Homo sapiens: one gene and its partner. The protein of the gene in region 1 purifies or fractionates together with the protein of each later gene. This does not show direct contact. Each region holds a gene or a part of one and is shown on either strand. Other genes may lie near its edges.

The links.
Region 2: the proteins of VSX1 (region 1) and WDR20 purify together in Homo sapiens (affinity purification with mass spectrometry; 3 studies listed by BioGRID and IntAct, with this or other methods). This does not show direct contact.

Annotation. Positions count from the first base shown.
Region 1 is NC_000020.11:25,076,209-25,089,289, reverse strand, and holds the start of VSX1 (visual system homeobox 1), read left to right. Parts: upstream 1-7,148; 5' UTR 7,149-7,193; coding exon 7,194-7,617; intron 7,618-7,958; exon of another isoform or gene 7,959-8,022; intron 8,023-9,775; coding exon 9,776-9,854; intron 9,855-10,337; coding exon 10,338-10,461; coding exon of another isoform or gene 10,462-10,554; exon of another isoform or gene 10,555-10,747; intron 10,748-11,172; exon of another isoform or gene 11,173-11,424; coding exon 11,425-11,605; intron 11,606-12,739; coding exon 12,740-13,029; 3' UTR 13,030-13,081. UniProt on the Homo sapiens protein: Binds to the 37-bp core of the locus control region (LCR) of the red/green visual pigment gene cluster. May regulate the activity of the LCR and the cone opsin genes at earlier stages of development. Dispensable in early retinal development.
Region 2 is NC_000014.9:102,141,132-102,153,326, forward strand, and holds part of WDR20 (WD repeat-containing protein 20), read left to right. Parts: intron 1-12,195. UniProt on the Homo sapiens protein: Regulator of deubiquitinating complexes. Activates deubiquitinating activity of complexes containing USP12. Anchors at the base of the ubiquitin-contacting loop of USP12 and remotely modulates the catalytic center of the enzyme.

The DNA of each region.
Region 1 (13,081 bases):
AGAACCACTTTTGGGAACCACACTTTGAGAACCACTGGCACATAGTAAGGAGGCCTCTTCCAGAGGCCACCAGGGAAGTCACTGTCCTGGAAGGTAAAGAACATTTGTCCAGGGGATGTGTTAATGAAAAGACTCAGTTCTGGGCTCCTGGAGCCAGGTAGGAGATGAGAACAGACACAAAAGAACTTAAGAATAAGAAAATAAGACCAAAGGAGCATCAAGTGCTTCAAGAGTGCAGCAGTGATTTTGTTCCAGCTGGGGCAGGAAAACCTGGGGAGGCTCTGCGGTGAGGAACCATTTGGGCTGGGCGTTGATGGGTGGCTGAGCACTGCTTGGCGCCTGGCCCTGCAAGTGCGATGTGGTGGGTCCTGTGTCCCACCTTGAATCTGTGTCCTGTCCTTGAATCTGGTGGCTTGTGGCTGCTTAAACCAGTCAGCAGGGCCAGTGCACACTAATGCCTTGGGTACAATGCCCAGGGCCTATGCTTCTAATGCCATTGAATATATTTTAAAATCAGAAGGAAAAATGAGTACAATAATAAAGAATATACAATAATGAATCTAGACTGGATTATATTCACCTTTATGCCAACATAGGCACAAAATACAACTTTAAATATTTTTATGGAAGAAGGGGCCCATGAAAGCAGAAGTGCCACTCCCCCAAAACTCATGCTATGGCCTCGCTGACTGAACGTGATGGAAGTAATGCTCTGACTTCTGTGGAAGGGCCAGCAAAGGCTGTGCAGCATCTGCCTGGTTCTTGTGGGATGCTCCCAACTCCCCGAGAGCCCACAAGGCCAATCAGCCTGGGCCATGTGAGCGGGCTGCCTTGAGCACCCAGCACAGCCCCGTTGAGCCCTCAGATGACTGCCACCCCAGACAGCAACCACAGGAGGGCTCTAAGTGATAATGGCCTGCTGAGCTCTCCCCAGATTTTTGAGCCACAAAACTGTGACCAAAATGAAATGGTTTGTAAGTAGCTGAGTTTTGGGATAATGTGTTACCTTAAAATAGTAACCGGAACATCCAGCCAAGAAAGGGAACTCGGGGGCTGGTGCTCTCATGGGGCTGATGAGAGGATGGACAACCCTGATCTCCGCACCCTGGGTCAGTTTTATAGGATATACCACATTGCTGACTCTCAAGAGCCTGCTTGTTCACTGATGAGCTGGGCATGTGATACCATCACTTCTTCAGTCACTAGCAGGAAGGAGTTAGGAGTTAGCATTGCCCATGTGGCAAGGGGAAGCCATTGAGGAAACTGCAGTAGGGAGCAATAGGCTGTGCTCAGGCAAGGATCACTGTGGCTGTGGAATAAAGATGGCAGTGGTGGGGTATGGGGAGGGGCATGAAGGAGGTAGAAGGAGATTCCAGAGGGCAGAGCCCTGGCCATACACCCTAGACAGGGTTATTGGATGCAAACCACAGAAATGTCACCCAGCCAATTTACACAGAAAATAGCCTTACTGAATGGCATTGTTTCTCCCCCATACACCCCCTCCCCAGACTGATGGACAGCTGGAGAGGAAGGGCAGGGATGTGCAGCCCAGGCACCTGGGAACAAGGCCAAGTCACCACAGGGCACAGCAGTGAGTGTGCCATAGCATGCAGGGTAGCCACGGGACACCCACCATTGCTGCTGCAGAAAACCCTCCCTCTCCTTTTGTCCCTGGGTCAAGGTCACAGAACTGCCAAGGAGTGGGACAAGGAGGACTTTACCTGCTGTTTTTTTTCTTTCTTTCTTTCTTTTTTTTTTTAGAAGCCACCTCTTTAGGGTACTCTGAAACTCATTTGTATACTGAGTAGCCCTAGACTAAAAAATAAATTCCACTCCAGCAAGTGAGCAATTGGTCTGAGCCATGTTGTGGCAATGGGTGGTGTCATGGTCTGTTCTGTGCTGCGGTAACAGAATACCACAGACTGCGTAATTCATAAACAATACAGGTTTATTTGGCTCATGGTTTGGAGACTGGGAAGAAGTTCAAGGTCAAGGGACCACATCAGGTGAGGGCCTTCTTGCTGCCACATCACATGGTGGAAGGTGTCACATGGTGAGAGAGGAAGAGCAGAAGAGGGGGCGGGAAGGGGCCAAACTCATGTGCCCACTCCCATGGTCACTAACCCACTCTCACGATAACTAACCCATTCCCACAATAACTAACCCACTCCTGCAACAATGGTATTGATCCACTCCTCAGGGCAGAGCCCTCCTGACCTAATCACTCCCTAAAGCCTCCACCTCTCAACACTGTTGCATTGGCGATTAAGGCACAACACACGAACTTCAGGGCACACAGTCAAATCAGAGCAGGCAAAGGAAAGAAGATGCCACTTTGAGAGGGTTTGAAGAGAGATGCAGGGCAGCAAGACACCCACAGTCAGAGTTAGGCCGTGAGCTGACACTGCTTGTATTCAAATCCTGTCTTTGCCACTGGATAGTGAGTGACCTTGGGCAATTTATGCAATTATTTAATCACTTGAAATTTTCACTTCCTCATCTGAAGCATGTGGACAATAATATTATCTACCCATAGAGCTGTGGTCAGGATGAAATGTGGCCATTGTGATAAGGTGTTTATAATAATAGCTGCCCCCCAGTAAGAAGCCAAGAGAGGTTGGCCATCTTCATCACTTTCAGTCGTGGGAGGAGAGCCTGTGGGGAGAGTGAGGGCCTGAGGATGACACTCGATTCTGTGTGGGCCCCGGGGTGGAGGAAGAGGAGACCTGGGGAGGTGCAGGCTGCAGGGGAGGCTGCTGTGTTCAGCTCTGGGTGTGTTGCATTTCAGTGCCCCGGGAGACTGGTTCAGACATGCAGGAGTACATTGAGACAACAGCCTGGGCTTCAAGAGTGGGGTCCAGATTGGAGAAGATTCCAGAGATCTGGGCAGGGAGATGGTGATTGCCCCGTGGGGTTCCACCTGAGAAGAAAGAAGGGCTCTGTAGACTTTGAGCTGAGCATTCCAGGAACACCCAGGTAAAAGCGAGATGGAGACAGGAAGTGTCTGAGCTCAGGTGGCTAGAAGCAGAGCCAGGGACAGGGTCTGGGCGCCTGAGAGATATTGAGACAAGGTCTCAGGAATGAGGGGCCAAGATGGGGTGGGAACAAGCTGAGCAAGGAGCTGACTTGGTCTGATCCATGAAGGGAGAGGGTCTTGTAGCAGAAACGCCTCTGCAGAGCTGTCCTTTGAAACGAGAGGAGAGGCCTCCTATCATCCCTCTGTCAGTTGATGACACAGTGTGTGTGTTTGTCAGGGGGTGGGGGGCTCTGGATTAAGGGGCTTTTGTCAGCCAAGGGCAATTCTTCCTATTCGAGGGCCCCACACTCACAACAGCTGGAAGAAGGTGCGACAGTTCTGGAAAGGGGGTCTGGGTAGGCACAACAGCATTTAGATACGAGGCAATATGGAATGCAATCATCAGCAAGTAACTAAAGCTCCTCCTGCTTGGATCTCTGGGAGGCGGAGTAGAAGGCACCTCTAAGAGTCACTCTGTGCAGGGGTGTGTTTGTGTGTGTGTAGCGGGGGGTGCTTACATTGCAATTCCCGTCAGTGTTTGGTGTCGCATTTCTCCACGTGTTAATTATTGGCACCTTTAGCTAGTGGGCAGAGTGAGCTCTGAAGGTCGAGAAAAGTCCCCAGGTAAAGATGTGGCGGGCACTGGAGGCTGGGCAGGCGTGCAGTTGGAGGGGTCAGGCTGGAGGTGGGTGGGGCCAAACAGCCTCTGCCACAACTTTTTTTTTTTTTTTTTTTTTTGGAGACGGAGTTTCACTCTTGTTGCCCAGGCTGGAGTGCAATGGCTCTATCTCAGCTCACCGCAACCTCCGCCTTCTAGGTTCAAACGATTCTTCTGTCTCAGCCTCCCTAGTAGCTGGGGTTACAGGCATGCATCACCATGCCCGGCTAATTTTGTATTTTTAGTAGAGACAGGGTTTCTCCATTTTGGTCAGGCTGGTCTTGAACTCCTGACCTTGTGATCCGCCCGCCTCGCCCTCCCAAAGTGCTGAGATTACAGGCGTGAGCCACTGTGCCCGGACTTTTAACTGAAGACACAAAAGCATCCGAGATGGAGCAGCCAGAGGTGGGAGGAAAATCAGAAGAACGGAGCCGTGGGGGGTCATTTCTGCAGACTCACAGGGCGATCCGTTTCACCTTCTCGGGGCATCCCACCCCATTGTGTCTGAGCACTTTATCGCGCCAGCCTGGCCAGCCGCGGCTCTGAGAAGCCCAAGAGGGGTGCCTGCTGAGCCACTCACAGCAGGTCCAACCTCAGCCTGGCGCTGCCAAGGCACATTCGCGGTCGGCGACAGAGGGGCTGGAAATCTTCCTTAGAAAATAATGAGCTGAGGAACCTTTATTCATTAGTTAAATCCCGGGTAATCCTGGCTGATGAAGACAGATTCGGAACCCTCAACGGATTTAGGGACCCAAAACGACTCCTGGGGGCCGCCCGGGGCGGGAACGTTCGCGGGAGCTGCGCCTCTGGCAATAGATTTGCAGGTGGTATCCGGTAGGGGGAAGCTGGAAGGAGCCCATTCTTTTGGCCGCCAGGACGCGGAGGCTTCCCCTAAACGCGGCCCGTAGGTTTGGCAACTGCGAGGGCACCCCGGGGACACGAGGATTGTGGGTGGATCGTGGGCTAGCTTTTTATCTCTTGCAGACGTCTCCTAAACGGCAAGAAGCGCTTCCCTGGTCTTGGCTGACGCTGAGTGAAGCGCCCGTATAACTTGACGCTGGGCTCTGGGTGGATCCCCACCACATAGGGCGCGCAAGTGGATACCAGAGCCCCGGCAACAGCGGGGACACAGATGAGCGCAGCGTCGGGTGGGGGGCGTTTCTCACTGTAGGAGGCTATGAAAATGTCCTCCCGCGCTGGGCTCCTGCCACCGCCACGCTGCGAAACACAAGGTGACCCAGGACACAACTCGCCCACCGCTGGGGTCCTGCAGGCCCCTCCCTGGCATTGGGGTCCCGGGATGCATTAGGAACGCCCCAGTCCAGGAATTGCAAGACCCCTTAGAAGTTCGTTCCTTCTGCATCTCTGAGTCCCCTTAGAGCTCCAATACGGGCTCCTTGATTGAGTCTCCTGCTCTGTGTCGCCCTCGCCACGTCTCTGTGTCCGATGTGACTGGGTTAATAAGTCCCAGTTGCTCTCACCTGCAAAATGAGTTTAAGACGATCCTTCCCGAGGCGCCGCGGTCACTATAGAGAGTGTCTGAGGCTGGGCTCCTACCGCCTGGCCTTTTGGTGTCTTTGGATCACTGGCTATCTACTCGGGGTCTGTCACTCCCGTGATCGCCTACCTTCCAGGGAGACCTAGGGGAGGGAGACCCCAAGACCTGTCCCAGGTGAGGCCACTTGGTCGGCACCCGGGGCTGCAGGCACGGCGCCCGCGTCCGCCCTCGCCCCTTAGGCTTTCCATTCGCGGGCGACCCCGGTCGGGCCACCTTAGAATCGACTACCCTGCCTGCCTGACTGGTCTCGGGCTACAAACTGTGTGGAAGCGTAGGTATCTCACTTAACTGCTACCCCAAATTCGGATTTACAAACGACTACGCAGTCCCGAATGCCCAACGCCTTCCCTAAACCCAGAGATAAATCTGGGGGAAAATTCCTCGCGGAGCGGAAAACAACGCCAGCGTCTAAAGCGTTCTGCCCCGAGCTGGAGTGGTTCAAAAGACAATGATCTCAAAAGAAAGTGATTGTTTTGGTAATCCCGGGAACAGCTTGCAAGGGGGAGATTTGGGTCTTCCTTTAGTAACGGAAAGTCAATGCGCAGCCTCCTGTAATTATCCTTATCGGAAGCCCCTTGTTTAATCTGCATGTTTAGCGGAGGCCCCACTCGAACGCGCAGCGAGTGGGAGACCCACTTTGCAGGGCCCAGGCTCGGGCTCCGGTCCCTGCGTGCGCGCAGGCAGCCGCGCCGGGTTCCCGCGGAGCTCAGGCGTTTGCTCCTCCCTCGCTGCGGGACCTCGGACTGTAGGACCCTCAGGGAGTGGGACTGAGGAGATCTGCTTCCGGGGTTCTGGGATTGGGAAGCGGGGGACGCAGGGCTCCGAGCGATGAGGGCTGGTTGGGTTCAAAGCGCGAACCAGTAGTTACTTACCCACGTGCTTGGGGCCAACTTTAGCGAATATCAGAGTTTCACTGATTATTCAAAGAATCAGGCTTTCTTTGAATAATCGTGAAATTGGACAATAAATTGTAAGCCCCGATGAAAAGGTGTGCTTTCCAGTAGACAGACTCTATTTTATTTCAATTTACCTCCCTCCACTCCTCCCCAATTTAGGGTTGCTGGATAAAATACTGATACATACTCCTACAAAAAAAAAAAGCCCTCCTTTTTTATCTGAAATCACATTTCACTGAGCCGACAGTGTTTTGTTGGTTAAACCTGGTACCCTGCCCGTCTCAGCCCCGGGCAGTCCACTCCTCTCTCTGCTTCTCTCCCTTTCCCCAGCTCTTGTGAGTCTGCCACCCCCTACAGTTCAGCCCGTGGAGTGTTGGGGATGGACCTGGGGGTGGATTTGGATGGAGGTAGAATGACCATGGATTAAAGGGATGGAGGTAGGATGACCATGGATTAAATACACGGTTTTCATTCCTTTCCCCTTGGGGATTTTCAGAGAAGGCCTTCTTACAGGAAGGCCTTCGTGGCACCGGCGGCGGAGGTGGAGGGCTGGCTGGGGACATATATGGGGTAGCCATCGGGGTGTGGTTGGGAATGGGGTCCTAGGTCTTAATAGGCAGTTGGGTCGCATCAAAGAAGCTTCAGGGCAGCTGGGAGTGGGGCCTCCACCCAGAGAGTCTGGAAGGAAGGAGAAGGCCACGCCAGGATGTAGAACTTGCGACTTTTCGAGGGACAGGCAGACAGCGGAGTCACTGTCCCTTACCTTCTTTCCTCCCCTCCCTCCTAGAATGGGGGTGGGGTGGGGTGGGGTGGGCTGGACAGAAGAGAGGAGGAGAAGGAGGTGACTGAGGGGACTGCAGCTGGGTGGGCGGTAACCGAGGGGAGGGGAACTGGTGGCGTCCCCATCTCGCGGGGTCCGGAACGGCGACGCGCCCGCGCCCAGCTGATTGGAGCCCTTCAGGCCTCCCGCGCCCGACCGGCAGCCCAATCCTATAAAGCTTCCTCTAAGCTGGGCCCTCCGCAAACGGGATCCAGAGAGGCTCGCGCCTTGCTTGCTAAGGAACCATGACCGGCCGGGACTCGCTTTCCGACGGGCGCACTAGCAGCAGGGCGCTGGTGCCTGGCGGTTCCCCTAGGGGCTCGCGCCCCCGGGGCTTCGCCATCACGGACCTGCTGGGCTTGGAGGCCGAGCTGCCGGCGCCCGCTGGCCCAGGACAGGGATCTGGCTGCGAGGGTCCGGCAGTCGCGCCGTGCCCGGGCCCGGGGCTTGACGGCTCCAGCCTGGCGCGTGGGGCCCTACCGCTGGGACTCGGCCTCCTCTGTGGCTTCGGCACGCAGCCGCCGGCGGCCGCTCGAGCACCCTGCCTGCTCCTAGCGGACGTGCCGTTCCTGCCGCCCAGGGGCCCCGAGCCCGCTGCCCCGCTGGCTCCCAGCCGTCCGCCGCCTGCGCTCGGCCGCCAGAAGCGCAGCGACAGCGTCTCCACGTCCGGTAATCAGGCCCGCGCTTTCCGCTCCTGCCCCTGTCCCCTAGGCTCTGAGCCGCGCAGGGGTCACAGACCATCGCCCCACCGCACCCCTGGCCCCAGCGGCCCAGATCTAGGCGGGGAGCCCAGAGCGAGGCCCCGTCGCGGGAGGGGCATTCGCGGAGCTGCGCCGCCTGCCCCTTGCTGCATCCTAAATCCCTGCCTCTCATCCGGGGTCCTGTTCCCTCAGCGATGTGAGACCGCCACCACCTGGTTCCGGGTGGAACCTTTTGATGAGACCCTGGGGTCTTCAACAACCATCTCCAGAGGGCCATTTTTCCCCCCAGCGCCAGGCGCCAGTCTCCGCCTCTGGCAGCTGCGTGGGTCGGGAAGGCCCGGGCCTGTGGTGGTCACCAGCAGCACCGAACAAGGTACCAGGTGGAAACGCGGGCGGAAATGATCGAATGATTGACGGGTCCTGGAAGAGTACGGGGCCTCGAGCCCTGGAACTGTCCGCCCCTTGGGGTGCTGAAAAGGGAGTCCCGGGTACCGCGCTCCTCTGCCGGCGCAGCGTCCTCCCAGTCCCCTGTGCAGGAGAAAGAAGCAACCTTGGGGATTCATTGTAGTTACGCCTAGAGATGTGTTCCTGGCCTACCCATTTCCCCAAAGAAATCCAGACGGGTCGCGGGGAAAGAGAAGGAAGCAATGAAATTCTATAAAGGACAAGGGCTAAGGAAACGAGTGGTTTTGGGTGTGGGAGAGAAAAGAAAGAATTACACAAGAAAGGATGGTATGTGGTAGAATCTAGAGCTGAGCATCCAGGCAGCCAAGGCAAAAAGAGTAGACTGGGTCTTCTGATACTAAAAGGAAGCATGTCAGATCAATAGGCAGGCAGGTTTTTGCTCCACTCTAAAAGGACTTTATTTCATGAGCTCTACGTAAGATAAAATGAAACTCCCTATTAGTGTCACTAAAAATGCAAAACTGTTTTCATGGGATGGGTTCTTTCTTACAAAACCAAAGGCAGCTAAATCCAACTCTGCCAGCATTTCTGAAAGTCTGGAGCAGAGCTGTCCAAGAAAAATGAAATGTGATTTCATGTTTGACGGAAATTTCTCACAGTCACATTAAAAGTGAAATGAATCTAAATACTATATTTTAACCCAACAATGATAGCAAATATTATCATTTTACACATAATCAATACAAAAATATTTTACTTTTTAGGAGCACTAAGTCTTCTAACTCCATTAAGTGATTTATGTTTACAGCATGTCTTGATCTTACTGGCCACATTTCATGTGCTTAATAACCTTATGTGTCTCATGTCTCATCAGGTTGGACAGCCCAATACAGAATGTTTTAATCCAAGCCAGGTTTCTGGTGAACTAATTGATGGATGAGTAAAACTAGTATTATTTAGTTATTTTTGCCTTTATTCATTTTAAAGATATTTTGAGGCAATTATGCCTTCTAGCAATGAATCTCACAATAGTTTGGCCTTCTAACCTTCTTTTCCATCTAGACTTTTTGATGTATTGGATATAAAAAGGTAAAGCACAGTGGAGTGGTTCTCAAATTTTCAAGGGCAACTACACATCATCTGAGCACACTTGTCAAGAATGAGCCTCCTAGATCCCACCTCCAGAGATTCTGATTTGGTGCATCAGGGAAGGGTTGCAGTTCTGACGAGGGTTCTGATGTCACAAGCCCCAGACTTCCTTTGGGAAATGTTGGTGTAGAGGTTAAGATGATGAGGCTGGGGGCATAGGGGTGGATGTGTTTGGAAGCAGTGTGGGGATAGAAAGTGCAATCAGTGGCTGAGTAGTTTTGGCTTCAGATAATCTGGGATTTGAATTCTCAACTTCACCATTTACTACCTGTGTGATTTTGGGCAAATTACTTAACCATTCGGTGCCTCAGTTTCCTCATCTGTAAAAATAGGATGATAATAATAGCAGCAGCCATTTTGGTGTTTTATTATTATATTAAGAATACTTGAGATAATGTATGGACAGTGTTAAGCACAGAGCCTGGGATCTAGTAGGCACTAAAAATGCTGGCTCATACTGTAAACTACTTAAGTACCCAAGAGGTTCATAACTTCAATCCTCACATTAAAATCCAGGAAATAGAGGGGATATGATCACCCTTAAAGTCCTCTTCTTCTTTCTGTGCCATCAGATGAGGACAGCCAGTCTGAAGACAGGAATGACCTAAAGGCATCCCCCACCTTGGGCAAGAGGAAGAAGCGGCGGCACAGGTATAGGGCCAGGCAGTCCCCTCTGCCTGCCTTTCCTCGGGACACAGCCCAAGGTTTATGGCACCTGCATCTGAGAATTTATGGCCCGGCATGATAGCAGGCCCAGTGGTTTCCTGGTTGGCAATGGGAAGGGCACAGAAGCCATTTGGGAAGATAATTCTGCAGTTCCTAGGAGGCTGGGAAAATGCTACAATCTTGCTAGCATTTTTTTGGGAGCATTTTAAAGACAATTTTGTGGATCTGTCAAATGGATTTTGTCAGAATGAGCTGATGGAATTCATTAAGAAAGAGCTAAAGAACTGTTTTCGTTTGAATCAAATTTCTGGACATCAGCTAATCATTCAGAGGTGGGGTGTTCCATTATCATGAAGTGGCTTCTAGGGTCTGGACAGCAGAGGAAGCAGGCACGGTGGTCCTTAAGGCCAGGGAGGCTGCTGTCCCCAGGGGACATGTGCCCACCTGTGTGTTTTGGGGTCCTTGCAGGACAGTTTTCACTGCTCACCAGCTGGAAGAGTTGGAGAAGGCATTCAGCGAGGCCCACTACCCTGATGTGTATGCCCGAGAAATGCTGGCTGTGAAAACTGAGCTCCCCGAAGACCGGATACAGGTGTCTGGGGTCCCTTTTCTCCGCTCCAAAGATACCACAGAGAACGTGTCATTCCCACATTCAGTGAGCCAATCAGCAGTCCCTTCTCTATAGCCAACACGCTCCCTTTGCATAGAAACTGAGGGTCCCTTAGCTGAAGGCACCACAAGAGCTTGCCCCTATGACCCTCATGCCTTTTTTCATTTTATTATTATTTAGTATCAAATCATTCTTTAAAATCACATGATAATGTGTGCTGCAACTAGAAACTATAAAGATATGTCAATGAAAAAAAAAAAAAAGAGACTACCTCTCCATCTCAAACCCTGAAAGAAATCAACACAAATGCCTGAGGAGACCTTTCTCTACTTTGTGGAGTATATTATCTGCCCCTGAATATGTATGTGCATATACATATCTACATGCATATATACACACACTCACATGCATACATAGAATTTTCCTCTTGGTTTTATCAGAAGATATGTCACTAACTCTTTTTTTAACAGCTAAACCGTATTTCATAATAGTCCTTTATTAACATAATGTTTTTAATGAGAAATATCACCAGCAACCCAATAGCCTAAGCTCGGAAGGAGCCAGTGCCCCAGTGAGCTCATTCCAATTAATGAGAAAAAGCAGGAAACACTGTAGTTGACCTCTTCACACAATGTGGGAAAAGGGAGTTTGATTCTTTAGTTTTTTTCATTCCTGACTCTATGGAAACTTCAGTGGACGTGGTCACAAGTGTCCCTACTGCGTTGAATGCCCGTGAGTCCGGACCGCACGTGGGCGCTGCTGGGGGCTCCTGGGCGCTCTCCCTGAGGGCGGCTGGTTGGCCCTCGGGAGCTATTTCCTTCAGAAATAGCATGGGATCATGCTCGGGAGAGAAGATCCGAGCCCTGGGACGCCGCCTCCGCTCCTCCAGGCGCCCCTCTTCACTGTCTCTTCTGTGTGCCTTCTGCTTCTCCTGCCTCCAACCAGGTCTGGTTTCAAAACCGCAGGGCCAAATGGCGCAAGCGGGAGAAGCGCTGGGGCGGCAGCAGCGTGATGGCCGAGTACGGGCTGTACGGGGCCATGGTGCGCCACTGCATCCCGCTGCCAGACTCCGTGCTCAACTCCGCCGAGGGCGGCCTGCTGGGCTCCTGCGCGCCCTGGCTCCTGGGTAAGGAAGGGCCCCCGGGATCGCACGGCTCGAGGTGTTGTAGGAGGTGGGGGAATCCCAGGGTGTCCCCACCGAGGCAGCCATTTCCAAAGCAAAGCAACGTCAGTTTACTGAGATTCAGGTCCAGAACCGTTCTTATTATTTTTAATTAATAACAAAGCTTGCAGCAACTGGATGGTTGCCTCATTTTTCACAGAGACTGTCTAGGCTGTGTGGAAGTCTCACCGGGCTATGCATGCTAAATATGTATTTGGGATTTAAGGGTGAAATGACATCATTGCATTAACAGCATCCAAGTGTTGAATGCTGTTAGAATTTTTAGAAACCATACAATTTAGGGCACTTGGTAATAGGAAACAGGGCAGTGCTGAGCAGCGACCCCTGGGGACAGTGAGCCCCTCCATCTGAGTCAGGAGGGCTGGCCCCGGGCTTGGTTCTGCCATGAACAACCTGCCGAGTGGCTTTTCTGTCCCTTAGATTTTTGGTGCTCAAAGAGTCTCCGCTGCTGAGACCCAGCACTCTCAGGATGCTCCACCCTTGTTGCCCTGTTTGCTGTCGCCAGAAACCAACAGGCAGGGATCACAGATTGTGGGAATGAGTCACAGATGAGTACCTCCGGGCACGGGGTAATTAGTTAGGAGGATCATGGTGGCATTTTAGGTTTAGATGGAGGAAGTTTTTTGCTCAGCGAACAGTTTTTGAACAGCTACCAAGCAGCCCTATCCTGGGCACTGGAGGTTCCAATCATAGATATGTCCTGACTTTGCTCTCAAGGACTGAAACACTAGAGGGAGCATTGTAGGCAGTGACCCAAACTGGCTCATCTGAAATTGCACAAACAGGTGGGGGAGGGCACTTACTGGCATCTGCGAGACCGCAGCCTAGGGGAAAGTGGGCCCAATGCCAATCACTGTGTCATCCTAAACACCTTTGCTGGATGTGACCCGGGGTCAGACACCTGCTTTAAACCCCTAAGGTGGGAGTTACCTACCTGCCTCTCCTGTAGGCCCCAGAGATAGGCACTGACAAGGACAATTCTAGTGGGATTTAGAGAACAATAAGAAGGAAATTTACTTCATTGCTGAATTTAAATTTTTATTTTTATTTTTTCCTTTTTATTTTTTTTTTTACAAGGGATGCATAAAAAATCCATGGGGATGATAAGGAAGCCAGGAAGTGAAGATAAGTTGGCAGGACTCTGGGGCTCTGACCACTTCAAAGAAGGTTCTAGCCAGAGTGAGTCAGGATCACAGAGAGGCTCAGATAAAGTGAGCCCTGAGAATGGCTTGGAAGATGTGGCTATTGACCTCTCCAGCTCTGCCCGGCAGGAGACCAAGAAAGTGCACCCTGGGGCTGGTGCTCAAGGAGGCTCCAACTCCACGGCACTGGAGGGGCCCCAGCCAGGGAAGGTGGGAGCCACATGAGACCCACAGGTCCCACTGTCAAAGGCTGAAAATGTGCATATTCCTCACTGGC
Region 2 (12,195 bases), on another chromosome or scaffold:
CTTATTTTTGAGATTGTAGTCTTTGACTTGATGTCATGGAAGAGTGAGGAAATTAATGCATCCCACAGCACCTCCAAATAGGACAAGGTGATAAAAGATTAAGTCGTAAATGCATGTTAGCATGAAAATAAATTGTTCATATTGAAGAGTGAACATTCTTCAGGATTTAATATAGCCAGATCCAGTACAGGATTTTCGCTTGTTACAAGAGCTAGGGAAATGACAGTGGTATCTAAATGTAGCAAAGTTGTTTCTTTGATTCAGGGTGAATCTTTTTTTCTTAGTCTTTATGATAATAAGTGTACCACTGTATTTAGGGTATGCTGTTGGAAGTTATTAAGGGTAAATCGCTTGACCTTTTTTTTTTCCTCGTTTGGAATTGCAAAAGCTCGAAGTAGTCTTCAGTCTAGGGGCTGAAGTTTTACTCCTACTCCCAACTTTGTCACTGACTTGTTTGGGTGACCTTGGATAAGTTATTTAACTTCTATTTGCACCTCTTTAAAAAGGGAATGTTACAGTGCACGTTGTAATTAATAATATAATAATCATAATGAACTTTAAGGCCCTGAAACACTCAGTAGATGTAAAATATAGTTAAATACTGACTGTCAAATAAGAAGCTGCTGTCTTGACATTGATAATCAGAGTGAAAGGACCAATTTTGTCTCAGGAAATTAAGTTTAGAATTTTAAGTTATAAAAATTTATATTTATATAAAAATACGATGTGCTTAAAAACTAAATTCACTAACTAGCAATTATTAATGTAGGAATTACTTAAAAATTTTTTTTTCTTTGAAATGTTATGACTTCTGAAGCATCCTAATGGCAGACCTTATCTGGATCTGGTAGCCCTGTTTTACATCATAAAGACAGGTTTCTTGCCTGGAAGTATCATTACAATAGTGTTCTCTTTTAGTGGGACGCTATTCCCTGAAGGGTAAAAGGAGGCAAGGTTTTTAAAACCACACCAAAAAATTATTTTAAACAAGATAAATGTGAAATACGTAAATTGCCCTTACCTGCATAATTTGAGTGTTTTAACGCTTTTTGGGTAAAATTTCATTTTCATGTGGTAGTATCTTGTAGATACATTTGCATTGTGTTGCAGATGTTTCTACTCTCTTTTAATTGTAACTTAAACATTTTTTTCCATGAATGAGTTGGCATTTATTTGTTGTTATTTCTGAGTATAAGTGACTTTTTATGACTATTTTCTGATTTAAAATATAGGAAATACATTTTCCTTAATTGGAAAACCAAAATTTACTTTTTAGAGTTAGTAGTTACAAACATATTTTTGACAGTTGGCTATTAAACATGTTTTTGTTTTTGTTTTTAGAGACAGGATCTCATCCTGTTGCCTAGGCTGGAGTGCGGTGGCGTGCTCATCGTTCACTACAGCCTCAAACTCCTGGGCTCAAATGATCTTCCCACTTCAGCCTTCCTAGTGGCTGGAACTACAGGTGTGCACCACCCTGGCTAATTAAAAAAAAAAATGTTTTTTAGAGATGGAGGTCTTGCCGTGTTGCCCAGGCTGGTCTTGAACTCCTGGCCTCAAGCGATCCTCCCACCTCAGCCTGCTAAAGTGCTGAGATTATAGGTGTGACCCACCATGCCCAGCGCACAGTTGGCTGTTTTGACTTTTTTTTTTTTTTTTTTTTTTTGGTCCTTTGAGGCGTGTAAAATTTTACAATAATTATTTGGATTATTCAGAAGATCTAATTTAGATGAGTAAATTCAACTTAAGTCTGTGTGTAAAATGAGTAGAAAATAGGTCTTTTAAAGAACTTAACTCATTAATTACGTGCTACCATTCCTGAGAGGAAACATGGGGTCCTGGGGAAATGGAGTAGGTGAGGAAGTAGTCTAACGTTCATGCTGAGGAGTGCAATCTTGATCCTTTTAAAAGGTTTACAGGTCAGTGTCTGGAGCTAGAAGGAACTTTAGAGTTTGTTATTTCACCCTCCTCAGAGCGAACCAAGGCCAGAGAGGGGATGCAAACCTGTTAGAATTTTTTCTCATAGTAAGGAAAATGAAGCACAGCTGAGTCTAAACCAGCTTAGAAGAGACTGATCCACCTTTTTGATCACAGGGATATTATATACTCCGAGCACTTCAGAATCTACCCCGGCATTTTGCCATATATTATTTTATTAAATTCTTGAGGTAGATTAAAACATCTTTTCACAATCGAGGAAGTTTAGAGTGGGGTTTCTTGTGTGAGGAGATGTAGTTTTGCAAATTTATTTAAAGACAGTATTAACATTGATTTAATACTGACACTAATCATTTTACCAGATTTGAGTGACTACTGTGATAGTAATAATACCAGGCAAGGTGATGTGAGGTATTCAGAGCTAAATAAGACCCTGTCCCTCTCCCCAAAAGACTTTCAACTACTAGCTTTTAAACATCTTTTTTTTTTTTTTGAGACAAAGTCTAGCTCTGTCACCCAGGGTGGAGTGCAGTGGCACAATCTCGGCTCACTGCAACCTCTGCCTCCTAGGTTCAAGCGATTCTCCTCCCTCAGCCTCCCGAGCAGCTGGGACTACAGGTGCGTACCACCACGCCCAGCTAATTTTTGTATTTTTGGTAGAGATGGGGTTTCATCATATTGGCCAGGCTGGTCTCGAACTCCTGACCTCGTGATCCACCCTCCTCGGCCTTCCAAAGTGCTGGGATTACAGGCGTGAGCCACTGCGCCCGGCCGTAAACATCTTTATTACATACTTTGTTCTCCTTTTTTAAAAAAAGAGATTGTGGTCGGGTGCAGTGGCTCATACCTGTAATCCCAGCACTTTGGGAGACTGAGGTGGGAGGATCGCTTGAGCCCAGGAGTTTGAGACCAGCCTGGATAATATATCAATACCCTGTGTCCACAAAAAAATAATAAAAAAAAAATTAGCTGGCCATGGTGGTATGTGCCTGTAGTCACAGCTACTTGGGAAGCGAGGAGGGCTCTTGAGCCGAAGAGTTAAGGTTACAGTGAGCTATGATTGTGCCACTGTACCCCAACCTGGGCAACAGAATGAGACCCTTTCTTTAAAACAACAAAAAAGGGGAGTGGGGCTATGCGCCATGGCTCACACCTGTAATCTCAGCGCTTTGGGAGGCCGAGGCAGGTAGATGACCTGAGGTCAGGAGTTTGAGACCAGCCTGGCCAACATGGTAAAACCCCATCTCTACTAAAAATACAAAATTAGCTGGGCGTGGTGGTGCTTGCCTATAGTCCCAGCTACTCGGGAGGCCGAGGCAGGAGAATCACTTGAACCCTGGAGTCGGAGGTTGCAGTGAGCCAAGATCATACCACCGCACTCCAGCCTGGGCGACAGAGCTAGACTCTGTCTCAAAAAAAAAAAAAAAAGATTGTTTTAGGATGTAGGATAAAAGATGCCAAAGGTAAGGTAGCTGGGCTTATTGGACCAATCCTCTCATTTTATGGACATCTGTTTTTACATAAATATGAATGGCCTCCATTCAGATCTCAGCTTAACCATCACTTCCTCAGGAAATTTTTCTTTGAATCCCCATGGTGTATCAGTTTTACCCTATTACATGTTTTTTTGTTTTGTTTTTTTTTTTGTTTTTGAGACAGAATCTTGCTCTGTTGCCCAGGCTGGAGTGCAGTGATGTGATCTTGGCTCACTGCAACCTCTGCCGCCCGGGCCCAAGTGATTCTTGGGCTACTCCCGAGTAGCTGGGATTACAGGCATGTGCCACCATGCCCAGCTCATTTTTGTATTTTAATAGAGACGGGGTTTTGCCATGTTGGCCAGGCTGGTCTTGAACTCCTGGCCTCAAGTGATTCACCTGCCTCAGCCTCCCAAAGCACTGGGATTACAGGCTCTATGTTCTTAGAGCATCTTGTGCTTTGCCTTCCTAGCACTTTTCTGAATTTGTAATTCTGTGTGATGATCCAACTGTGCCTTCTATAAAACAAAGCTCCCTTAGAATAGGGACATTATCTTTCCTGCTCTCCATCTTCTCAATGCACAGTGCAGTGTCCAGTTTAGAGTTAGGCCCTTGCTGTGTACTTGTTGAGTGAATGACTGAGTAAAGCCATGTCTGTCTATACCAAACTTGAAAGAGATCTTTAGAAGATGAAAAACCTATTCAGTTTTGGGCCCAAAAGTAACTTGGGTATTTTTTAATAGCTCATATCTTTTAAAAGACATTTAAAAATATTGCTAGTAGGTAAAAAATTTAACCTTCTTAAAATAGGGAAATCGTGTAAGAGACAATGAAGTAATAGTAAACAAATGACACAGATTACTTTTGATCTACTTCTGTCAAACCATGTCACCTACAAGATCCATGTACAACTTTTAAAAACTGTTCTCAGGCCAGGAGTGGTGGCTCATACCTATAATCCTAACACTTTTGGGAGGCCAAGGCGGGAGGATTGCAGGGGTCCAGCCTGGGCAACACAGTGAAACCTCGTGTGGGTTCGAGACCAGCCTGGACAACATAGTGAAACCCTGTCTCTACAAGGGTGGGCGTGGTGTCATGTGCCTCTAGTCCCACCTACTTGGAAGGCTGAGGTAGAAGGGTCACTTGAACTGGGGAGGTTGAGGCTGCAGTGAGCTGTAATCGTGCCACTGCACTCCAGCCCGGGCAAGAGAGTGAGAGCCTGTTTCAAAAAAACAAAACAATCAATAATAAACAAAAACTATACTCAGAATTACTTAACATTCAAGCCAAAGAACCTTCCTACCTTCCCACATCTTAAGATTCCAGGTCACAAATGTACTGCCCAGAGAAGTTACTGAAGTGGTAACTACAGGAGGTAGGAAGTAGATTTAGAGGATTCTAAGGTTTTTCCATCTCTAAAGCTTATATGATTCTGTACTCAGTTGTTTTTTTTTTTTTTAAATGGAAATGGATTCATCATTCTATTGGGGAGGTATCTTCATCTCTTTGATTCATTGCCTACTTGATTTGGAATTGAGAGGGGTGGGGTGTTTGGGAAAGCAAGCTGAAAACATTGTGATTTCTAGGTATTTATGCTGGAAGAGTTTTTTTGTTTGTTTGTTTGTTTGTTTGTTTTTGAGACGAAGTCTTGCTCTGTCGCCCAGGCTGGAGTGCAGTGGCTTGATCTTGGCTCACTGTGACCTCTGGCACCCGGGTTTTAAGCGATTCTCCTGCCTCAGCCTCCGAAGTAGCTGGGATTACAGGCACTTGCCACCATGCCCAGCTAATTTTTGTATATTTAGTAGAGACAGGGTTTCAGCATCTTGGCCAGGCTGGTCTTGAACTCCTGACCTTGTGATCCACCCGTCTCGGCCTCTCAAAGTGCTGGGATTACAGGTGTGAATCACCATGCCCGGCTAGAAGAGCTTTATGTTCATGATGCTGAGATGAAGTTGGGGCCAGAAGAAGAGTCAGTTGATAAAAGCTAAAGTATTTTTAGATCCTGATTAAAGAAGAAGGTAATGGGTTGACTTGAGAGAGAATGAGCGTTCTGTTATGGGAATGCTCATATGGGAAATGTTCTGTCTCTTTGTCAAAAACTGCAGGACCACCTGTTGGTGACATTGGAGGAATTCCTGCTTTGTGTGGGAGGGTGAACTAGATGCCTTTAAAAAAAATTTCCCCCCCACAGACTTGTTTTAGATATTTTACTGCTTCAGAGAGGGTCATGTTCACACCATTCTCCCCTTTTGTAATTTTTCACACCTCCCTGGCTCCCCTTTTATAATTTAGAAAGAGGTTTAGAAGTCTGTAACTTTTTGTATTAGATTTACTTTGAGAAATCTTGTACTTAATTTAGTAGGTCACAGAGGGTTGCTGAATGACTGGAAACTTGTGTTTCTTTTCCATTAAGGGCTATTTGCTGACTTCTGAAATATTGATGATTTATTTGACTTTAGAATTTTGCATACTGAGGGGAAAGCATCTTAATGTATCATTTAAAGCAGGAGATACTTTCATACTATACCTGGGTTCTCTTGGCTTTGAAGAGGAGGGTGGTCATGAGATATTGAAAGATTGCATGGGTGGCTTGTAATCCCAGCACTTTGGGAGGCTGAGGCGGGTGGATCATCTGGGGTTAGGAGTTCAAGACCAGCCTGGCCAACACGGGGAAACCACATCTCTACTAAAAATACAAAAATTAGCCAAGTATGGTGGCGCATGCCTGTAATCCCAGCTACTCAGGAGGCAGGAGAATCACTTGAACCCAGGAGGTGGAGGTTGCAGTGAGCCAAGATCGTGCCAGTGCACTCCAGCCTGGGCAACAAAGCGAGACCTTCCCAAAAAAGGAGGACTTCATGGGTAGATATGAGCAATGGTGAGAAGCACCTGGAATATGTCATGGAAGTCCGTGAGATAGTCATGAATGCCATTCTTTCAGCAAATATTCATGGAGTATGCCTACCAGATATGAGGTACTGTTTTAGATGCTGGGTGTAGTCAGAGTCTCTGCCCTCAAGAAATGTGTCACTTATACGATATTTATTATCATTGACTTAATATAGTGACTTAAGGGTAAAGTGCTTTGATGGCAAACTTGAGCTTGAGCAAGCATCAAAACATGGTGGATTTTGTCACTGAGTGGTTTGGCTGTATGGCTAAAGAACCTTGTTTTATTTTATTTTAGTTTTAGTTTTAGTTTTGGAGACAGAGTCTCACTCTATTCCCCAGGCTGGAGTGCAATGGCATGATCTTGGTTCACTGCAACCTCTGCCTCCCGGGTTCAAGCCATTCGCAGGCCTCAGCCTCCCGAGTAACTGGGATTACAGGCACCTGCCACCACACCCAGCTAATTTTTGTCTTTTTAGTAGAGACGGGGTTTCCCCATGTTGGCCAGGCTGGCCTTGAACTCCTGACCTCAGGTGATCCACCTGCCTGGGCCTCCCAAAGTGCTGGGATTACAGGCGTGGGCTACTACGCCTGGCCAAGAACCTTGTTTTAAAAATAGGAAGATTTTTGTCGTCTGGAATTTAGTATCTCAGAGAATAATTCTGTTTGTTTCTCAGTGAGGTTAGTTTGTGCAGTAATATGAAATGTGATCTTGTTTGGTTATTCAGGAGAAGACCTTAAAAATAGAAGTAACCTTAATTGGTAGACATTTCTAATTGGTAGACTTCAGTTTTAATTTTCAGGACACTTGAAATTGACAGCATCAGTGACAAGTTACCTTGGCTCTTGCCCTTAATCCCAGTATTTTAGGAGACCGAGGCAGGAGGATTGGTTGAGCCCCAGGAGTTTGAGACCAGCCAGGGCAACATAGTGAGAGCTCATCTCTACAAGAAAAAATTAGCCAGGTGTGGTGGTGCACGCCTGTGGCCCCAGCTATTCAGGTGGCTTAGGTGGGAGAATTGCTGGAGCCTGGGAGGTTGAGGCTGCAGTGAGCGGAAATTGTGCCACTGGACTCCAGCCTGGGTGACAGAGCTGAGACTCTGTCTCAAAAAAAAAAAAAAATCATAATCCTCATTCATCAAGCATTTATTGATGACTGGTATATACAAGGCACTGCTGTCTATTGTGGCGGATGTGAAGTGTATTTAACACTCCTGTCTTTAAAGAGTTTGGCTTTGTGTGTGTGTGTGTGTGTGTGTGTGTGTGTGTGTGTGTTTGGAACAGGGTCTCACTGTGTCACCTAGGCTGGAGGGCAGTGGCACAATCATAGCTCACTGCAGCTTCAACCTCCTGGGCTCAAGTGATCCTCCCGCCTCAGCCTCCTGAGTAATTGGGACTACAGGCATGTGCCACTGTGCCTGGATAATTTTTAAAAAATTTTTTGTAGGCCAGGCGCGGTGGCTCACGCTTGTAATCCCTGCACTTTGGGAGGCCGAGGCGGGCGGATCACGAGGTCAGGAGTTTGAGACCGTCCTGGCTAACACAGCGACACCCCCTCTCTACTAAAAATACAAAAAAATTTAGCTGGGTGTGGTGGCGGGTGCCTGTAGTCGCAGCTACTCGGAAGGCTGAGGCAGGAGAATACTTGAACCCGGGAGGTGGCGCTTGCAGTGAGCTGAGATCGTGCCACTGCACTCCAGCCTGGGCGACAGAGTGAGACTCTCTCAAAACAAAACAAACAAACAAAAAATACATACATAAATACATTTTTTTCTTTTGTAGAGACTGGGTCTTGCTGTGTTGCCTAGTCTGACCTTGAACTCCTGGGCTCAAGTGATGCTTTTGCCTTGTGCTCCCAAAGTGCTGGGATTACAGATGTGAGCCATTGTTCCCGGCTGATTTTGTATTTATCATTATAATACAAAGTAGAGGATATGTGCTCTGCATGTGGCATAGCAATGTAAGTATCAAGTGGAATTAAGGAGTAAAGGTGAAGTGGAAAAGTATTTCTCTGCCTAGTAGAAGAATATTGCATTGGGTTTCAAATAGATAATTTGCCCTAAAATGTTGTGTGCAGATCATATTTTTTATAAATTTTTAAATTTGTTGCCTTGTATTTCTAATTTCAGAAATGCTTTATTTTTATTTCTGATTGAGCGTAAGATGTCCACTGCTCTTTTAGCATTTTTCTCAACTTTTCAGCTTCTCTGCCAGTTGGTAATTTGTAAATTGAGAAATATTTTGTGTCATCAATTCTATTTTATTTATTTATTTATTTGAGACGGAGTCTCACTCTGTCGCCCAGGCTGGAGTGCAGTGGCTCGATCTCAGCACACTGCAACCTCTGCCTCCTGGGTTCAAGCAGTTCTCTGCCTCAGACTCCAGAGTGGCTGGGACTGCAGGCACATGCCACCACGCCCGGCTAATTTTTGTATTTTTTAGTAGAGATGGGGTTTCACTGTATTGGCCAGGCTGGTCTCTTAACTCCTCACCTCGTGATCCACCCGCCTTGGCCTCCCAAAGTGCTGGGATTACAGGCATGAGCCACCGCACCCAGACGTCGATTCTATTTTGTAGTAGATTTTTAAAAAGTAGATATATTATTCTAAAAACATGCCAAATCAGTTTGTGTTACAGCTTATCTTGCTTTGTATCAATAGGAAAATAGCTTAAATATATAGGTTTTATAAGAAAGAAGCAAGAATCATTCATGAGGAAGGAATTTATAAGGATTTTATATTTACAAAGTAAGAATCAGGCCTGGCATAGGATTACATCACGCCTGTAATCCTAGCACGTTGGGAGGCTGAGGTGGGAGGATTTCTTGAGGCTAGGAGTTGGAAACAAGCCTGGACAACATAGTGAGACCCCATCTCTACAAAAATTAAAAATTAGCTGAGTGTGGTGGTGTGCGCCTGTAGTCCCAGCTACTCGGGGCCGAGGTAAGAGGATTGCTTGAGCCCAGGGTGGGGAGGTCGAGGCTGCACTGTGATTGAGCCACTGCACTCCAGCCTCAGCGACAGAATGAGACCATCTCAAAAAAAAGTAAGAATAATTCAGTAAGAGGGAATATTTTAACATCTTAGTTACCGCATTGTAGATTATTGCTCTGCCATGAAGCTGTTTTTTTCTTTAGTTGACTCACAGCCAGCTTACCCTTTTACTACCCTTTTTTGTTCTGCTACAGTAAAACTTGTACAGGTGCTCATTCTCTTTACTTACTTGGATCTCTGCTTTAGAGCTCTGTCTTGCCTTAATATTTCATTTAATAAATATTTGAGTAGTTTTTGTGTGAAAAGCAGTATGCCAGACTTTGGGAAATCAAAGAAGTATGAGGTATGGGCCCTGACCTTAAGAGTATCATCTAACCAAGGACGGACATGATATTCACACACTCATTCTAAGAGGACTTACTGAGTGCCTGCTCTATATTGTTAAGAATCTCTGCTGTCAAAGAGTTCACAGTCCAATGGAATAATCAAGGGCTTATTCATTCAACTAACATTTATTGGACCTGTGGATCCAAAGATAAATAAGACATAGTCCCTGGCCCAAAGTGCCTACAGTCTAGTGGTGAGACAGATAAGTAAACCAGCAATGATAAGGCAGCTGCTAAAAGGCATTCAGAACTGAACATTGCCTATTAATAGGTGCTGTGTACAGTTGGTGAGAGGATAAATGCATAACTCTTTAAAGTTTATAGCCTTTTTATTTTCTCTTCAAAACCATCCATTGGGGAATTTTTTTTTTTTTTTTTTTTTTTTTGTCATTGGAGAGATTGTAGTGTGTCCACGGATAATGAAGGGCTACAGTAGAGCCTGATGTTAAACCCAAGGCCTGTGCCTAGGCCTCTTACACGAGCTTTTCTGTCAAAAAACGAACTATGACTGATACTGATGTGATTCCTGAGAGTGGGAAATAGTAGGCTAAAAAGTAATTAGGAGGTGTTTTTTTGTTTTTGTTTTTGTTTTTGTTTTTTTGAGACAGGGTCTCACTTTGTAGCCCAGGCTGGAGTGCAGTGGCTCAATCATAGCTCACTGCAGCCTTGAACTCCTGGGCTGAAGCCATCCTCCCACCTTAGCCTCCCATGTAGCTGGGACTACAGGTGTGCACCACCACGCCTGGCTAATTTTTTTTTTGGTAGAGACGAGGTCTTGCTGTGTTGTCTGGGTTGGTCTTGCCTGGGTTCAAACGATCTTCCTTCCTTGGCCTCCCAAAATGTTGGGATTATAGGCATGAACCACCATGCTGGGCCAGGAAATATTTTATAGAAGAGATATGACATGGGTACTCTTTTCTTTTCCTTTTTCTTTTTTTTTTTAATGAAACAAGATTTCACTTTGTCACCTAGGCTGGAGTGCAGTGACACAATCATGGCTCACTGCAGCCTCAACCTTCTGGGCCCAAATAATCCTCCTGCCTCAGCCTTCCAAGTAGCTGAGTCTATAGGAGCATGCTACCACCCACACCCACCTGGCTAATTTTTACTTTTTTTGTTTTTGGACACAGGGTCGGTCTCGCTCTGTTGCCCAGGCTGGAGTGCACTGGCACGATCTCAACTCACTGCAACCTCCGCTTCCTGGGATCAAGGGGTCTTCCCACTTCAGCCTCCTGAGTATCTGGGACTATAGGCACCATGCCCGGCTAATTTCTGTATTTTTTTATAGAGACAGGGTTTCACCATGTTGCCCAGGCTGGTCTTGGACTCCTGACCTGATATCATCCTCCCATCACAGCCTCCCACAGTGGTAGGATTATAGGTGTGAGCCACTGAACCCTGGCCCATGAGTACTCTTTTTCTTCCTCTCGGATATAAAGAAATGATCTGAACATCCCTGGAAGTATTGATAAGAAAGACAGCAAGATTTAAGAGATCACATAATAATAGTAATAGCTGACATTATTAATAACATATTAATCATGTTAATAATAGTGTGGATTATGGATAATTATGGATATTGTGCTAACAGATTATGCAGGGTCTCTCTTTTTTTTTTTTTGAGACAGAGTCTTGCTCTGTCACCAGGCTGGAGTACAGTGGGGTGATCTCGGCTCACTGCAGCCTCCGCCTCCCAGGTTCAAGCAACTCTCCTGCCTCAGACTCCCGAGTAGCTGGGACTATAGGCGTGTGCCACCATGCCCGGCCAATTTTCGTATTTTTACTACAGACGGGGTTTCACCATGTTGGTCAGGATGGCCTGGATCTCTTGCCCTCATATGATCCACCTGCCTCAGCCTTCCAAAGTGCTGGGATTATAGGCGTGAGCCACCGTACCTGGCCCCATGATCTCGTTAAATCTTTGCAAATAATCTTATAAAGTAGACACTATTAGTATCCTTATTTTACAGGTGAGAAAATGAGATTTGTAGCAACTGGATACTTTGCATAGGTTATAAAACTAATAAGCCATTGTCCTGGGGTTTGAATCCAGTTCTGTTCAACCCTAGAACCAGAGTGCTTAACAATAAGCTAGGGACTTATATTGTCAGTAAGCACAGGACTAGGAGTCTCATTGGGAGCTCTGGTCCCTGCCCAAATCTCATGTTGATTAGTAATCCCTAGTATTGGAGGTGGGGCCTGGTGGGAGGTGATTAGATCAAGGGGTGGATTTCTCAGGAATGGTTTAGCACCATCTACTTGGTGCTGCCCTCACGCTAGTGAGTACGAGTTCTCTCCAGAACTGGCTGTTTAAAAGTGTGTGTGGCACTTCCTTGTCTCCCTCTTGCACCTTCTTTCTCCATGTGAAGTGCCTGCCCCCCCTTCACCTTCTGCCATGATTGAAAGCTTCTTGAGGCCTCACTAGAAGCTGAGTAGATGGCAGCACTATGCTTCCTGTAGAGGTTGCAGAACCATGAGCCAGTGAAACCTCTTTCTTTTTTTTTTTTTTTTTGA